2 separate regions of the Homo sapiens genome follow, and region 2 is linked to region 1. The links come from fine-mapping of genetic effects on gene expression. A gene starts in region 1. The other region holds a variant in brackets. All regions are shown on one strand. Distances are from middle to middle. Region 1 holds the start of RAVER1 (ribonucleoprotein, PTB binding 1). Region 2 overlaps ZGLP1 (zinc finger GATA like protein 1).

Region 1 (2,901 bases):
TTAACCTGCATGAACCTCCTTTTGCAAGATTCACTGTTTCCAACAACTCTGTAAGTGAAGTATTAACAAACTCATGTTGTATATGAGAAAACTTAGGCTAGGAGAAGTGAAGAGATCTGCTGGAGGCCATGCAGTTGGGCAGCGCAGCCACCCATGGGTACCTGACTGGGGAGCCCACCTTCTAGTAAGCCCCACGTTGTGTGGGTTCACATGCCTCCCAATTTCCTCCTGCTGATAAAGCTGCCCTCTTCCAAGCCAGCTCATTTATTTTTCTTTTTTTTAGAGATAGTGTCTTGTTCTGTCACCTAGGCTAGAGTGTAGTAGCACAATCATAGCTCACTGCAGCCTCAACCTCCTAGGCTCAAGTGATCCTCCCACCTCAGCCTCCTGCGTAGCTGGGACTACAGGCACGCACCACCATGCCTGGCTAATTTTTAAAAATTTTTTGTAGAGATGAGGGTTTCACTATACCGCCCAGGCTAGTCTCGAACCCTTGGGCTCAATACAGCCTCTTGCCTCAGCCTCTCAAAGTGCTGGGATTAAAGGGATGAGCCACCATGCCCAGCCTCTCAAGCCAGCTTTGAAGGCAAAGTGCTGGCGCCTGCTGGGACCAGACACACTGTGCATCTTGCAGGAGAGACAATGTGTTCCCAGCTGAGAGACTGCAGACACTGAGAGGAAGACCCAGAAAGAAACCTGACCATCCTTAATGATCCCTGTCCCGATCTGTCCCCAAATTCAGCCCCTCCCAACATCCCTGGGGTTCCACTAGCCACGTGCCCACCCGGTGTGCTGGTGGGCCGGAGAGCAGGGAATCTCAGCAGCAGGAAGCGAGAACCTATTTCACCGCCATAGGGCAGGGCAGTATAGATGCCATTTCCCTGGGTCCAAAGAGCATTGGGAAGCGCTGCCCCATGCTGGCCCCATGAGAAGGGCACTCCTAGCAGGAAGATTAGCCACGAGGGGCTCCATAGAACACAGGCCTCGCTTCCTTCCTGTAGGTCTGTAGGCTGGTGGCAGAAGACCCCATTTTCCCAAATTAATCCTGAGGTTTTGGGGGCTGAGACCCAGGGGCTGCTGTTAACTTCCGGATTTATCTCTGAGAGCAGTGAATAAACGCGTGATATGGAGGGGCGTACTCTCCGCAGTCCTGAAACTTCTGGATGTGAGGTCCCGCCACCCTGTGGTAGAGTGGGTGGAGAAAAGCATCATCCAAGCAGGGGGCAACTGGTGGTCCAATGTACCAGCCCATTCACAATTCCCCAACAGGACCAAAGCTGTCCGCCCCCTTCCATTCCCCGCCCGCTTCCATCACTTGGTGTCGCCCAAGCCTGTGGTCGCCCCTAGCAACGCCCTCCCTCACTTCGCAGTCGGTTTCCCCTTTCATCATCGCCCCCCCACGTCCCGCTCTTGGTCTCTCCCGATCCCGCGTGGATCCGGTGCTTGGGCGCCCCCGCCAACGACCCCCGCGCACCTCAGCGTTGGTGTCGCCCGGTTCCCCCCGCGCACGCGCACCGTGGTATTTCCCGCCACGCTCCTACACCGCCCCCCCCAATACCTGGTTGGTCACGTCCCCCGGGAGGCCCCGGATCAGTATCTTGCGGCGGTTACGGAACTGGCGCTCGGTGTGTTCCAGGCGTTTCCGGATCTCTTCTGGATCTAGAGGCGGCAGCTCTTCTTCCGGCGCCCGGCGCTCCGCGGCATCGCCGGCTTCGACTTCGGCCCCAGACTTAGGGCTCAGCGGGGGCCGGTGAGTAACGGACACGTCCGCCGCCATCTTGGGAAACCCGGCGCCTTCTGGGACCAGCGAGCCGGGGCGGAGCGGCATAGAGCGGCAACGAGGGCGCGCCCGTCGATTGGCTGGGAGAAACCCCACCTCCTTCCCGCCCCCCTTGCCCCGTTGGCTAAGCCCCAGCCCACCTCTCAAGAGTTCAAGCTGCGTCTGCGCGCCACAGGCCCCGCCCCCTTCCGTCGCAGCGACGCTACTCAGTGGATGTGCACCTGGGTGGGAGAGACTTGCAGCGCGGGTGGAATCAAACCACAGATTAGGGAGTTTGAAGGCTTTATTGGTGCGGAATCTGAGGGCACAGCCAAGCCCCCGCCAACTTTGATCCCGGATCCCAGCGTCACTCAGCTCTGGACGGTTCTTCCCCCATTGCTTCTGTCGGCTGCATAGACGTGAGGGGCAGATAGGTGCTCTCCTCCCTAACATGGTAACTGCCGCTCCGTTGGTGCTCCCTGAAGACGTACATTAAGGCCAGTACGATAGTCACCACGCCCAGGGTCAGTAACACCGCCACGAAGACGGGGACAAAGTGGGAGCTCCCAGCTGTGCAGAGAAAGCGCTAAGTCAATATGCGTCCCTTCTGTCTCCAACCCCCCCGCCCCCCGGCTTACCGGTCCAGACCCGCAGCCCCGTGTTAGCTCACCCTCAATGTCCATCACCACGACCAGGGTGTATTTGCCTCGTGAGCTGGACGCTTGGCACTGATAAGTACCATTATGTGTTACGTTGACGAAGAACGGGATCCCCACCGGCACCTCCCGGCTGGAGCCTTCCTTCAAACACCGCAGCTCGGGGTACGGGTTGCCCCTGGCTTGGCACTGCAGGACGTGTCTCGTTTTATCTTTCCATTTCAAGTGCTGGGGGCATGTGGCTCGGTCAATTTTGGGACCATCTGTGGAACCACCATGTGTGATCAGACACCCAACACACCCGAGGCACAGTGGTGCAGAGGAGCGTCTAATCTTTCCAGGGCAGGGGTGGAGGGATTAAAGGTCAGGGTGACCGACTCACACAGGACTCGCAGCTGGACGCTACTGTTCCTGTGCAAGAACTCGCCGTCCACCTCGAGAGTGGCACTGCAGAAGAAGCTGCGTCCGTCGTCACTCTCGGTAGCA
Region 2 (2,877 bases), 27 kb before region 1:
CATGCTACCACGCCTGGCTAATTTTTGCATATTTAGTAGAGACGGGGTTTCATCATGTTGGCCAGGCTGGTCTCGATCTCCTGACCTCAGGTGATCCACCTGCATCAGCCTCCCAAAGTGCTGGGATTACAGAAATGAGCCACTGTGCCTGGCTAGACATGTGTCTTTTTTTTTCCCTTCTGTATATAACAGGGTCTCACTATGTTGCCCAGGCTGGTCTCAAACTCGTGGCCTCAAGCAATCCTCCTGCCTCAGCCTCCCAAAGTGTTGGGATTACAGGCGTGAGCCACTGCACCCGGCTTGTGTGTGTCTTTCTGTATCTGTTGTGTGTGTCTGTGGGTAGTGGCTGTTTCCCTGCATGGGACATTGTGGTAAATGTGGCTAATTCCCTGTGTGGGGGCTGCTGCCTGTGGATAAGACTGTGTCTCTGTGCATGCGCACGTGTGTGCACGCCCCTCACAACCCCAACGAGAAAACACCTGTCCACCTTCCTGGGCTGGCACAGGGGCACAGGAGGCGGGATCCCAAATCACAGGCTTTTTCTCTCGGCATATCTCTGTACTTTATTGTCCCTGCTGTAACAATGCTCATCCTTCCTGAGAGCGTCTCCTGAGGGGGCCTCGGCCAAGGCTGACTGGAGAAGGGGCTGGTGACCCCTAGCAGGCTCTGCCACCTGAGGCCTGGGTCTTCCCCCGGGATCCTTGAATCTGGAGATGGCAGAGAGGAGGCAGGCCGGCTCTTTCCCCAATCCTCCTAGGAGAGCTGCTTCTGCCCATTCTCCCACTGGTGAAACGGAGGCAGAAGCAGCAGCTCAGCAGGGTGAAGCTGGGTTTAACCTTCCTGAATGGGGTCCAGGGACACTCCACATCTGCCACATAGCCTCTTGGGCTGGACATTTTTCCTGGGCACCAGCCAGCAGCTGGAGCAGCGAGTGCCGTATTTCTTGTACCTAGGGTTGGGGGACAAGAAACTGCCATTTAGGATGCAGTGGGGGCCCGGAAACCGCCACAAGGAAACCACTTTTCCCAAGAGGTAGGTGTTTTGCTTTTTGCTTTCCCCACAGGCCATCCTGGTTACACGTGGACTGATTTGGGGACCCCCGCCCCAACTCCCTCCTCCATTCTAAGGACCTGATCCCACAGGCGTTGCAGAGAGGGGTCCCATCTTCAGCGTCTCTCCAGAGCGGGGTCCTCTGGGTCCGACAGGAAGCACAGCGCCGGGGCTCTGAAGGGTCAGAGGTCAAAGGGCAGGGGTCAGAGGCCAAGCATGTGAGCTCGGGATGCCTGTGCGGAGTCGGGCATTTTGTGGGGGTCTCAGTAAAGGCCCCACCTAGCTCTGGATCAGCCCTGGGAGTTGCCAGCTCTAAGCCACAGCAAAGCCAGGAAGGGAGACAGATGGCAGCATTCCGCAGAGGAGGAAGCTGGGGGTGGGGGTGACTCAGCCCAAGTGGAGGGGGGTGCTGCGACTCCTCCCTGAGGGCTCTAAATGGGGAAGCAAGATGGAGAAGG[G/A]GGGGGCAGGGAGAAAGGCAGGGAAGACAGGAAATTGGCCCCCAAAATATTTATAGCTCTTGGGTTTTCAGGACTCACCCAGGGCCTCGCTGCCTGCTGAGTGGGCCTCGGTGCCTCCTGGGTGGGCTGCAGGGCCCCCAACAGCATCTGCAGGGGATTCCTGAGAACGGCTACTGCAGGGCAGGCTGTGGGGCAGACAAGGTATTAGCACTGGGGGGGATCTGTAGCTTGTCCCCAACAGCCCTCCGAAATGAAGATTTAGTATCAAGGTATCAGCCATCCCCCGAGGAGGCAACTAATATCTGAATGGCCTGGCTTTGCCTCTCATTAGTAATATTATTATTATTATTATTATTATTTTTGCAGATGGAGTCTCGCTCTGTTGCCCAGGCTGGAGTGTAGTGGTGTCATCTCAGCTCACTACAACCTCCACCTCCCGGGTTCAAGCAATTCTTGAGCCTCAGCCTCCCAAGCAGCTGGGACTACAGGCGCGCGACACCACGCCCAGCTAATTTTTGTATTTTTAGTACAGACGGGGTTTCACCATGTTGGCCAGGCTGGTCTCGAACTCCTGACCTCAAGTGATCCACCCACCTCGGCCTCCCAAAGTGCAGGGATTACAGGCATGAGCTACCGTGCCCGACCTAATTATTATTATTATTATTTGAAAAATAGTAAGCACAGGGACAGCCTGCCAGGTTCCAATCCCAGTTCTCCATGTCCTTGCTGTGTGAGCCTGGACACATTATCTCCTACTCTGTGCCTCAGTTTCCTCATCTGTAAAATGGGCTTCCCAATACAACAGTTTTTTTTTCTTTGAAAATTTGATTTATTGATTTTTAAAAAGAGATGGGAGTCTGGGCAATATAGGGAGACCCCGTCTCTACAAACAAAAAAAATAGCCAGGAGTGGTGGTACAGGCCTGCACTCCCAGCTAGTTGGGAGGCTGAGGAGGGAGGATGGCTTGGGCCTGGGAGGTCCAGGCTGCAGTGAGCCATGATTGCGCCACTGCACTCCACCCTGGGTGACAGAGCAAGACCCTGTCTCAAAAACAAACAAACAAACAAAAGCAAAAAAAAGCAGCCAGGCATGGTGGCGGCTCACTCCTGTAATCCCAACACTTTGGGAGGGCAAGGCAGATGGATCACCTGAGGTCAAGAGATCGAGACCATCCCGGCCAACATGGCAAAACCCCATCTCTACTAAAAATACAAAAATTAGCCAGGCGTGGTAGCAGGCACCTGTAATCCCAGCTACTCCAGAGGCTGAGGCAGGAGAATCGTTTGAATCCGGGAGGCAGAGGTTGCAGTGAGCCGAGATTGTGTCATTGCACTCCAGCCTGAACGACAGAGTGCAACTCCATCTCAAA

The links. PIP is the estimated chance that this variant, and not a neighbour inherited with it, causes the effect.
Region 2: its variant is fine-mapped to the expression of RAVER1 in whole blood (TOPMed, PIP 0.95).

The regions. Positions count from the first base shown.
Region 1 is chr19:10,331,731-10,334,631 of GRCh38, forward strand. RAVER1 (ribonucleoprotein, PTB binding 1) reads right to left here and starts at 1,799. Exons shown (of 13, transcript NM_133452.3): 1 at 1,559-1,799. The coding sequence starts at 1,777. ICAM3 (intercellular adhesion molecule 3) reads right to left here. Exons shown (of 7, transcript NM_002162.5): 5 at 2,798-2,901; 6 at 2,430-2,678; 7 at 2,046-2,329. The coding sequence ends at 2,127. RefSeq lists enhancers at 276-1,192, 1,193-2,109, 1,600-1,819, 2,060-2,199, 2,824-2,901 and a silencer at 1,204-1,427.
Region 2 is chr19:10,304,260-10,307,136 of GRCh38, forward strand. ZGLP1 (zinc finger GATA like protein 1) reads right to left here. Exons shown (of 5, transcript NM_001409033.1): 3 at 1,587-1,693; 4 at 1,131-1,224; 5 at 544-949. The coding sequence ends at 832. It overlaps FDX2-ZGLP1 (FDX2-ZGLP1 readthrough), which reads right to left. Exons shown (of 9, transcript NR_176052.1): 7 at 1,587-1,693; 8 at 1,131-1,224; 9 at 544-949. Among named protein-coding and RNA genes, the nearest start is that of ZGLP1, 4.1 kb to the right of the region's middle. RefSeq lists an enhancer at 603-1,802. The variant G/A (reference allele first, on the strand shown) is at 1,509.